Homo sapiens: one gene and its partners. The protein of the gene in region 1 purifies or fractionates together with the protein of each later gene. This does not show direct contact. Each region holds a gene or a part of one and is shown in the gene's direction. Other genes may lie near its edges. The genes, in order: TRMT5, PSTPIP2 and SENP8.

What was found.
Region 2: the proteins of TRMT5 (region 1) and PSTPIP2 fractionate together in Homo sapiens (co-fractionation; one large-scale study listed by BioGRID). This does not show direct contact.
Region 3: the proteins of TRMT5 (region 1) and SENP8 fractionate together in Homo sapiens (co-fractionation; one large-scale study listed by BioGRID). This does not show direct contact.

What each region holds. Positions count from the first base shown.
Region 1 is NC_000014.9:60,978,821-60,982,575, reverse strand, and holds the start of TRMT5 (tRNA (guanine(37)-N(1))-methyltransferase), read left to right. Parts: upstream 1-1,552; 5' UTR 1,553-1,602; coding exon 1,603-1,613; exon of another isoform or gene 1,614-1,640; coding exon of another isoform or gene 1,641-1,732; intron 1,733-2,689; coding exon 2,690-3,345; intron 3,346-3,755. Other genes in the region: SLC38A6 (solute carrier family 38 member 6), read right to left, coding at 1-68, 1,194-1,298. UniProt on the Homo sapiens protein: Involved in mitochondrial tRNA methylation. Specifically methylates the N1 position of guanosine-37 in various tRNAs. Methylation is not dependent on the nature of the nucleoside 5' of the target nucleoside.
Region 2 is NC_000018.10:46,002,697-46,006,351, reverse strand, and holds part of PSTPIP2 (proline-serine-threonine phosphatase-interacting protein 2), read left to right. Parts: intron 1-820; coding exon 821-883; intron 884-3,655. UniProt on the Homo sapiens protein: Binds to F-actin. May be involved in regulation of the actin cytoskeleton.
Region 3 is NC_000015.10:72,124,838-72,128,492, forward strand, and holds part of SENP8 (sentrin-specific protease 8), read left to right. Parts: intron 1-3,655. UniProt on the Homo sapiens protein: Protease that catalyzes two essential functions in the NEDD8 pathway: processing of full-length NEDD8 to its mature form and deconjugation of NEDD8 from targeted proteins such as cullins or p53.

The sequences.
Region 1 (3,755 bases):
ATGGCATTCATCAAATTAAACACTGATAAACCAAATGAAACACCTGGGGATCGCTGTCTGTGAAGTTCCTGTAAGCACACAAATTTAGTAGTGTTAAATGTTTGGACGGTGAAGTTAAAATTTCGTAAAGAAATTCCATAAATGAAAGATTATGGAAAAAAGCTGCAAACCACCAGGGTTTGTATGACACACTCGTTGCTTAACCAACACTAATTTCCTTTCCTTTCCTTCCCACCTCCCACTACTGCAGCTCCAGGAATCTAGGGTTTCTTAGGAAAATGATTTCCACCAGTACACAAGACAGGCAGAGTTCAGGAAGGGCCATGACTAACCTTGTGACTGCAAGAGATGAAGATAGGATGGGAATGGAGTGGGGAGAGAGAGGAGGGATAAGGCCTCAGCTCATGTGATTACTAAAGAATTGCTGAGTCAACCTGGGACTGCTGTGGGCAGTTGTTTCTCCTCAATTACTAGGACTGCACAACTAATCTCTACTTATATATCTAATGAATTAGTTCTACCAAACTGGAAGGATGGTCAGGAATATCTTGCAATGACAATATTATAAACAGAAGCAATTCACGTTGTTCTGGCAGTATCCCTGAAAACATCCCCCTCCCCACAAACAGCACCGGGAACAAAGTCCTGGGAACAGTGTCTAGGACTCGAGTTAAAAAGCGGAGTGCCCACTGCACAGGCTTTAGGGTCAGGAACGTGCTATGCACTTACTACCAAGCCACTTCCATTCTACCGCTAAGAATTTCTGTATTAAAATGTTTATTATTTTCCCTCCCCCCATGACTAAGTCGGAAGAGGAAAATCCTGTGACTCTTGCAAAGACCTCACGAGACTGGTGGAGAAAATAAGGTGACAAAAATACTAACTAACAGCAGTGAGTACATAATCCTAGGGCCGCTCATCCCATCATGTTCGCAGCTTCCACTCAACGCTGCATCTCTTCCACCCGACGCTTTTCATCTTTTCTTTCTAGAGTATGCTAGGCTGCTATCACGTTCATAACTGCGCCAATCTCATCTGAATCTCGGCGGCTGCCTTCAGACCCCATCCCCCAGGGTTCAGGCTCCAGCATCTCCCCTGTCCCGGTGCGGTCCTCCTTTTCTGGGTCTTATTTGGCAGGCACTTGAGGGAAGCCGGAGGGCGTCAGCGCGGGGAAGCGAACACAGCCCACTTACGTTGCTTAGCAACGGACTCAACTCTTCGGCCTCCGCTTCTTCAGGCTGCTGGACAGAGACATACCAGCCCCGCTCAGCGTTGAAGCTCCCCCAGGACGCCTCCATGCTGCTCTCCAGCTGACTACCAGTTCCATCTACGAGCCTCTACCCCTGCCCTGCGCTCCAGTCGTCGGTCGCGCCAGAGGCGGAGCTTTGAGCCCGGCCCTTCCGGCATTCCGTACTTCACCAGGGCCTGGAAGGAGAGGAGCGAGTCGACTTGATCTGATGACGCGCGCCCTCTTCGCGGCGAACAGTGATGATGTCATAGAAGACCCGCCCATCCACCCGCGACCCACATCCGATCGGTACCGGAGCGGGAGGTGAGGGGTCGGCTCGCGGATCCAGCTGCAGAGCGACGTGGGGAATTGGAATGGTGCTTTGGTGAGGTGGCGGCCGCGTTAGGGGCTAATGGTCCAGGGGAGGTACCAGCCCGCCCAGGGCTGCTCTCTGCCATGTGCTGCCTGGGCACAGAAACATCGCGAGGTCACCCACCCGCCTAGGTGCTGAGCTTAGTTTCGAGGTTCTGGATAGTAAGGAATGTTTCAAAAGCCTTTCGCCACATTTTACTGGTGGGAAAACCGAGACTTATAGTAATTTATCCAGGGTCACCCAGCTGGTCAGCTGCTAGAACCAATTTGATCTCTGACGGTGAAGTTAGACTTCGTTGCTTTACAGGATTCTGGGACAGGGCCCTTTCCCCTTACAAGTAAATTCTTTGGTATTTTAGAAGACAGTGAATAACTGATACTATGCATATAACAATCAGCAAAGCTCTCGTCCTCAAAATACAGAAGCCTCTAGTTAAAGGCAGGACATGTGGCAGTAAAGCATCGAAAACAAACAACAGAGCAATATATTAAGAACACAAGCACCGAAGTCAGTCAAAACTAGGTTTTAATCCATGTTTAGCCACTTATCAGCTGGGAGACTTTGGGTGGGTTACCTTACGTCTGAGCTTTAGTTTACTTATTTACAAAATGAGGGTGCAATACTGCACACCTCCCAAGATTCATAATGTACATAAAGCATTTAGCGCAGTATCTGACACAATAAGCACCCATGAGACTATCCTAATAAATATCACCACTAGTAATGGTCATGTATAATGACTATTTCATTTACAGATGACCATTTAACTCATACTTCAGTCTTCCAATCCCAAATGTATTATCTAGAAAATTGTGGGTGAAGAGGATCATTGAGTATGGCTAATGGATCACTAAGCCCTCTGAACTGGGAGCAGATGGGTTGAAGGTGTAAATTTAATATATACCACTATTATCTACCACTAATACGACTTCCTGAAGAAGTCATCCTAGTCTGGAAAAGATAGTATACTTCCCACACATCACTAAACGTTTTATTTGTCAGCATTTAGCCCGTTATTTGAGATAGTAGAATTTAGATTTTTATTCTCAAAAGCTGTCGTGTGTGAATTTTTTTTTTTTTTTTTTAAGGATCTTATGGAGGCCATTTGGATTCTCAGGAAGATTTCTGAAACTGGAAAGCCATAGCATAACTGAATCAAAATCGTTGATTCCAGTAGCTTGGACATCCCTGACACAGATGCTTTTGGAAGCACCTGGTATTTTCTTATTGGGTCAAAGAAAAAGATTCTCAACCATGCCAGAAACAGAAACACATGAGAGAGAGACTGAATTGTTTTCACCACCTTCTGATGTCCGAGGCATGACAAAACTTGATAGAACAGCTTTTAAAAAGACAGTCAACATTCCAGTGCTTAAAGTGAGGAAAGAAATAGTCAGTAAATTGATGCGATCCCTAAAAAGGGCAGCATTGCAGCGCCCAGGCATAAGACGTGTGATTGAAGATCCGGAAGATAAAGAAAGTAGACTAATCATGTTGGATCCCTATAAAATATTTACTCATGATTCCTTTGAGAAAGCAGAACTCAGTGTTTTAGAGCAGCTTAATGTCAGTCCACAGATCTCTAAATACAATTTGGAACTAACATATGAACACTTTAAGTCAGAAGAAATCTTGAGAGCTGTGCTTCCTGAAGGTCAAGATGTAACTTCAGGGTTTAGCAGGATTGGACATATTGCACACCTAAACCTTCGAGATCATCAGCTGCCTTTCAAACATTTAATTGGTACGTGTGTCATAGTAATATTCATGTATTTGAAGGGAATTTGCAAATTGTTAATTTTAGCTTTAAAAATTATTTTTTTTAATGCCAAGTTACAGAGGCAGAACATTTTATCATGTTAACTTTAAGCTAGATCTTGAGCTACATACCCTCTTTTGAGGGCCATTTTGAAATATCTTCTTTAGTCATAGCAAGTTCCAAATACTGGTCCAGGCTTTTGTGTACAACAATACATCAGTGTAGATTAAACTTGAATCACATGCTTTGGCAGCTACATTGAGGAGAGATCTTTTTGGTACACAAGACTTGTTAGGCCTTCAGGGCTATGTTAAATACTAGGTTTCATAAATTTGGGTACTTTATAGTCAAAAGTGCAAGATGTTTACTTATGCTTTCATTGATTCAACCAATTG
Region 2 (3,655 bases), on another chromosome or scaffold:
CTGGGCATGGTGGCTCATACCTGTAATCCCAGCACTTTGGGAGGCCGAGCTGGGTGGATCACCTGAGGTCAGGAGTTTGAGACCAGCCTGGCCAACAAGGTGAAACCCCATCTCTACTAAAAGTGCAAAAATTAGCCAGGTGTGGTGGTGCAGGCTTGTAATCCCAGCTACTCTGGAGGCTGAGGCACGAGAATTGCTTGAACCCAGGAGGCAGAGGTTGTAGTCAGCTGAGATCATGCCACTGCACTCCAGCCTGGGTGACAGAGTGAGACTCTGTCTTAAAAAATAAAAAAATGGAATAAAAGAGTAACAGAACAGCTTCTTTTAGTTGTCTTACAAATTCTTTTTTCCTTCATACTGCCCGGGCACCCTGATGGTCATGGATGTGTCACTGATGGGCTGCAGAAATGAATGTTTACAAGTACCGAATTTAACTGTGCTGATGTATACTTATAGAATAAAGACCTCTTTTAAAATATAAATGGCACTTTAACAAAAGTTTTAAAATTCCTTTTTGAAACCAAAGTTCCTTGATTCCAGATTTTACTGAAGAGACTGCTCTAAGGTGATCAGTGAGTCTCCACTGTGTCTGAGAGTTCAGGCTTTGGTGTTTGCCTGCACAAGTTCAAAGATGGGCCCCGTTATTAGCTAGGAATAAGAGCTTAGGCAAATTGTTTGGTCTCTTTTCTCTGAAGATTGTGAAATGTGGGTAATCATTTTGAACACTTAACCCTCAAGATAAGCTGGTATTGATAATGATTTCTGTTTTTATTAATAATGATTTGTGTTTTTATTAAGAGTGTTTATGATCTCTTTACAGACAGAGCTCATAATGGATGCTATCCATAAACAAAAGAGCTTACAATTCAAGAAAACCATGGATGTGAGTCACATTTTATTGTCTTTTTTGGGATAATGGTGACATTTTCTGAAATCCTGTGCTGTGTATGAACATATTCCTACTCAAATAACATTTCAAAAATGTTATTATTTATTAGTGCAGTGTTTTAGGGAAAACAACCTTAAATGCTTTGGGTTTTCTTTTTTGTTGTTGTTGTACATATTATTACATTACCCAGAGATTAAGTTCAGTACCCAATAGTTATCTTTTCTGCTCCTCTCCCTCCTCTCACCCTCCCTCTCAATTAGACCCCAGTGTCTGTTATTTCCTTCTTTATATTCATAAGTTCTTATCATTTAGCTCCCACTTATAAGTGAGAACATGTGGTATTTGGTTTTCTGTTCCTGCATTAGTTTGCTAAGGATGATAGCCTCCAGTTCTATCCATGTTTCCTCAAAAGACATGATTTCATTCTTTTTTATGGTTGCATAGTATTCCATGGTGTATATGTACCACATATTCTTTATCCAGTCTGTCATTGATTGGCATTTAGGTTGATTCCGTGTCTTTGCTATTATGAACAGTGCTGCAATGAACATTCACGTGCATGTGTCTTTAGGGTAGAATGCTTTATATTCCTCTGGGTGTATACCCAGTAATGGGATTGCTGGGTCAAATGGTAGTTCTGCTTTTAGTTCTTTGAGGAATCTCCATACTGCTTTCCACAATGGTTGAACCAATTTATACTCCCACCAACAGTGTATAAGGTTTTTCTTTTTTTAAGGCCTTGGAAAGATTGAAAGTGACACTAGATAGTGGAAATGCAACAGGGTTATCTTTCTGGTAACCCGAGAAAATATAGCAAGTCAGTTCAAATATTTTAGGCAAAGATACAAAAACATATATAGTGTACAATACCCTTTATCTTATAGAATTTGCAATTTTACCCTGTTACTATTTTGAATCTTGATTGCTTACCTATTTTATTGAGTGATCCCTTTCTGTTTTAAGATATCTGAAAATTATAAAAACTTTTCCTTTAAGTAATTTATTTAAAAAATGTTGGCAAGACAGAGATTGGACAAGTTGCTAGAAATCTCTCTCTAGCTTTTATGTATCTGTTGACTCTGGATACAACAAACTCTGTTATTAGAACATATATGACTCCATCTTGACACCGAAGTATCATCATGATATTCTACGAGTAGGATGTAATAGGGAAGTGTCACCAGTGTTGATAGCATATGCAATCTGTTCTGCTGCATTCTTTTTCTCCTTGATGCAGAAATCCCTCAAAAACAATTGATAAATAGGGAATGATGTCAGTGTAATACAGAAATAGTGTTAGTTGATAGATGATTTTTCCCAGACCTTTTATATTTTAAACAATCTGGGGCAAGATTTTTTATAATTAAAGAGAAAGGCTTATCAAAATATAACTTTCTGGCTGGGTATAGTGGCTCACACCTGTAATCCCAGCACTTCGGGAGGCCGAGGCAGGTGGATCACCTGAGGTCAGGAGTTCGAGACCAGCCTGGCCAACATGGCAAAACCGCGACTCTACTAAAAATACAAAAAAAAAAAAAATTAGCTGGGTGTGGTGGTGTGCACCTGTAATCCCAGCTACTTGGGAAGTTGAGGCAGGAGAATCGCTTGAACCCAGGAGGTGGAGGTTGCGGTGAGCCGAGATCGCACTATTGCATACTCCAGCCTGGGCAACAAGAGTGAAACTCTGTCTCAAAAAAAAAAAAAAAAACTCTGAAAGGGGGAGAGAAGAAGGCACACTGGCTAGTGACCTTGGACTCAAAGAACAACCTGACAAGGGTTCCCTGGGCTTTCTTTTTGCCTCATTTATCACAGACTGAGTGCCAAAGAAGCAGGCATCCCAGAAATGCCAATGGTCATAGACCAAAAATTAAAAAAATAAAAAAAATAAATAAAAAGCTCCAAGAAAAACCTGTTCTCTCTAACCAAAAGACCAGAAAAGGGGCAGCCTAGCAGGACAGAAACTTTAGAAAATAACCATTCTACTGCAGCCAAACACCACGTAAAAAACCTGGGGACCCACCTCCACACATCAGCAAAGGCCAAGTGGAGAGTCTAAACTTCCACCACACCAGGCTGTAGAGAGCACCCAACTCCCCTGCCAAGGTGGCAACAGAGAACAAATAGGGGACCAGGACTTTCACTCCCACCAGGAGGTAACAGAGCCTCCTCTACACAGTGTTATTGGGAGCTATGTGGGGAACCCTGACTTCCACCTGCACCGGGAAATAATGATGTACACCCTCTCCCTCCTGGGATGGTGTCTAAGGAGGTCTAGTGGAGAGTGAGAACTTTAACCACTTTCCAGTAGTAACTGGGTCACACACACTCTGTGGTGTCAGTGGAGACCAAGGAGGGGAAACCTGGACTTTCACACTCACATGACAGTAATGAGATGATGCCTCACCTTCCCCTGCTGGAGTGGTGTCCTGAGGAAGCTAGCTAAAACAGAAGCCTTAAATAAAATCCAGAGTCTTGTAACATAATACCAAAAATTCCCCCAAATCAATCAAATATCACTCTTCATACCAGAAAGATACGAAACTCCATGAAAAGAAAGACAATCAATAGCTGCCAAGATCTAGATAACAGAGATGTTGGAATTATGTGACGAAGATTTTACAGCATCCACTATCAAAATATTCAGCAAGCAATTACAAAGACACTTTTTTTGAGATGGGGGGGTCTCACAATGTTGCCCAGGCTGGCCTTGAATTCCTGGGCTCAAGTGATTCTCCTACCTCAGCCTCCTGAGTAGCTGGAATTACA
Region 3 (3,655 bases), on another chromosome or scaffold:
TTAATCCTATTTCTTAAAATGATATTTACACTTGATGGATATCGTTCTTGATTATTTTTCTGTATATTTTTATCATATACAGATGTTTATATCAAAGCATATTATGAACATTTTTCTTTTAATAAATTTGTATTGACAATATTATATTTAATGGCTGAAAACTATTCCATCGTGTGGAAACCCTGTTGTTTAATTTACCAGTCCTTTTTTGAACTCCAGATTGTTTCCAGTTTTTCTGTTACAAATACTGCCATGGTGAATATCTTGTTGAATTTTTGCACACATTGTTAATGTCTCCCTTAAGTTAAATTTCTTAAAGTATAATACCTACATATATAAATTTCTTAAGAATTCCAATATAATGGCAAATTACCCTTGAAAAAGCTTGCATGTATGACAGTCCTATCAAAATGGGGCATCATTTACTCATTTCCCATAATCTCTCAGCAATGCTAATTATTATTAGTTTTCTTCACCTTTGCTAACTTGACAGGTAAAAAAATGAAATTTTATTTTAACTTACATTTATTTGATTACTACTCTGATGTCCAGTGTCTTTTCATGTGTTTATTGACTAGTCATGTAAGTGTATTAACTAATATTTTCTAACAATTTTTTTTTTACTTTTTAACATTTAAATTTGTATTCTATCTAAAATATAATTTGATGTAAGGTATGAGGTAAAACTCTTTACTTTTTTAATCAAATAATTAACAAGTTGTGCCAATGCTACTTATTAAAAAATCCAGCAAGCATATCCCATACTTCAATATACAGATAATAAAGTACTGATAGATATTCCTCCAAAAAAAAGAAAGACTATTTCGTGGTTAAATAAGTTTGGGAAAAGATCATACGAAAAAAAGTTAAAATTTTTTATCGCCAAACTCTCGTTAGCCTCTAGTGTGTGTGTGTGCATTAGGAGTTAGCATTTCCTAATTTAATTAACCATGTAATCTTTTTTCTTTTTTATTTATTTATTTATTTTATTTATTTATTTTTTTGAGATGGAGTCTCACTCTGTCGCCCAGGCTGTAGTGCAGTGGGGTGATCTCGGCTCACTGCAACCTCTGCCTCCCAGGTTCAAGCAATTCTCCTGCCTCTACCTCCCAAGTAACTGAGATTACAAGTATGCACTACCATATCCAACTTGTTTTGTATTTTCAGTAGAGATGGGGTTTTGCCATATTGGCCAGGCGGGTCTCAAGCTCCTGACCTCAGGTGATCTGCCTGCCTTAGCCTCCCAAAGTGCTGGGATTACAGGTGTGAGCTATTTTTTTTAACCATGTAATCTCACTTCATAGGTATTTCAGGAAATACCTATGAAAGCCTGTGGAACTGAGCTGTCCAGTATACTAGCACTAGCCACATGTGGCTATTTAAATTTTAGTTAATTAAAATTACTCAGTTCTTCAGTCACACTGACCATATTTCAAGAACTCAATAGCCACAAGGGGCTAGTGGCTACTGTATTGAACATTTTGCAGATAAAAGAAAATTTCCGGGCCAGGCACAGTGGCTGATGCCTGTAATCCCAGCACGCTGAGAGGCCGAGGTGGGTGGATCACAAGGTCAGGAATTCAAGACCAGCCTGGCCAAGCTGGTGAAACCCTGTCTCTACTAAAAAACTACAAAAAATTAGCCAGGCACAGTGGCAGTTGCCTGTAATCCCAGCTACTCGGGAGGCTGAAGCAGGAGAATCGCTTGAACCCAGGCAGCAGAGGTTGCAGTGAGCCGAGATTGCGCCACTACACTCCAGCCGGGGCGACGGAGTGAGACTCCATCTCAAAAAATAGGAAAATTTCCGTCACAAGAAGTGCTATTGGACAGCACTGCTATGGGAACATAATGTTCAGTGGAACACGTGAACACGCTGAAAACACTGGAATAATCCATAATTTCTCCTGATTTGTCAGGCAAACATGATTACTACTACACTATGAGAACAGACTCTCTCATTGATTTGTAAAGACTCCATCATCATATTTAAAATTTCTAATCTACATATGATTTTTTTATGCTATTGATTTATCTACTTCTGCTCCAATACCACACCCCTAGTTTTAAGTCAAGGTTCTGCACCTTTCTCTTTCAGAGCAGAAATGAAGAATTCTTGCATGGAGTAGGAAATTAGATTAGAAGTGATAGTAAAGGCGCTTTCACTTCCCAGACTCTAAATGTAAACATTTCTCTGCCGAACTTGATTTATATTATGTTGAGCTGTATACTCAATTACTTATTCATTTATTCTACAATTATTTATTGAGTACCTGCCTGGTAAGCACTGTTTTAGGTCCTGGGGTTAAAATGGCAAACAAGGCAGACAAGGCCCCTCGTCGTCTTATTTTCATAGAGCTTACATTCTTGTTTTGGAGAGGGAAAGAGAAGAGGCAGGGGGAGGAAAAAAGAATATGAACCAATAAACAAATAAATTAAAAAACTATCACATAGTAATCAGTGCTATTCAAGGAATTGAAATTAGAGTGATAGTAACTGGTGGCCTCTTTGTTTTGGCTGCCCTGAGACCTCTGTGACTTAGTGGCATTTAAACTAAGATCTGTCCAAAGAAGAAGCTAATTACTAGAAGGTCCAGGCAGAGCTAGTACCACCCTCAGGAGGGAAAAAGCTTGGTGTATTTGAGGAGTAAAAAGAAAGTCTTTGTGGCTGGGTCTTAGTGGGCAAGCAGGGAAATAATAGGAGATAAGGTTGGAGAAATAGCTGAAGCCACATTTTCATGTAGGGTTTTGTAAACTAGGGTAGGGAATTTTCATTTTTTTCTGAGTATGATAGCTACTAGAGACTCCTAAGCAGGGAACAGACCTGGCCTAATTTAAATTTTTAAACAATTATTTTGATGGAGAATTTATTGGCACAGTCAGTAGTGGAAATAGGAGACCTGTTAGGCTAGGTCAAGAAAGAAATGGTGATAGATTTGACTAAGGTGATAGTAGTGAAGATGGAAAGCATTGGACAGATTTAGAACATTTAGGCTATAGAATCAACAGGACTTGTCAATTGGATGTGAAGTGTGAAGACAATAGAAAACTCTGGGATGAGCCTGGGCAACATAGTGAGACCCTGCCTCTATAAAAAAAAATATTAATTAGCCAGACATGGTGGTATGCACGTATAGTGCATATAGCTACTTGGAAGGCCAAGGTGGGAGGATCACTTGAGCCCATCAGTTAAAGGCTGCAGTGAGCTATGATTGCACCACTGCACTCCATCCTGGGCAACAGAGTGAGACGTTTTCAAAGAAAGAGAGAGGGAAAGGGGAGAGGGGAGAGAGGGAGGGGAGGGGAAGAAGAAAAAACAGAGAGAGAGAGAAAGAAAAAAACTAACTCTTGGATGATGTCTGTAATCCATTATATAGTAACCAGGTTCAATTTTCAGTCTGATTATGGCAGGCAAAATTGGGACACATAAGACACCAATAAATATATTTTAACCAAATGAATAAATTTACTTTAATAAATGTTTCTCTCCTGTACACATTTAAGCTGCTAAAGCATAAGCTTGTGCTCATTCCTTTATTATTAGGGAATCTGACTCCTAAGAATTTGAGGTTTATGTCATAAACACATCAGCTATAGGTAATTATTAGACTGTTCCCCTGAAGTATCCAAGCCAACAGAGGAGACTGAATGAAACAGAA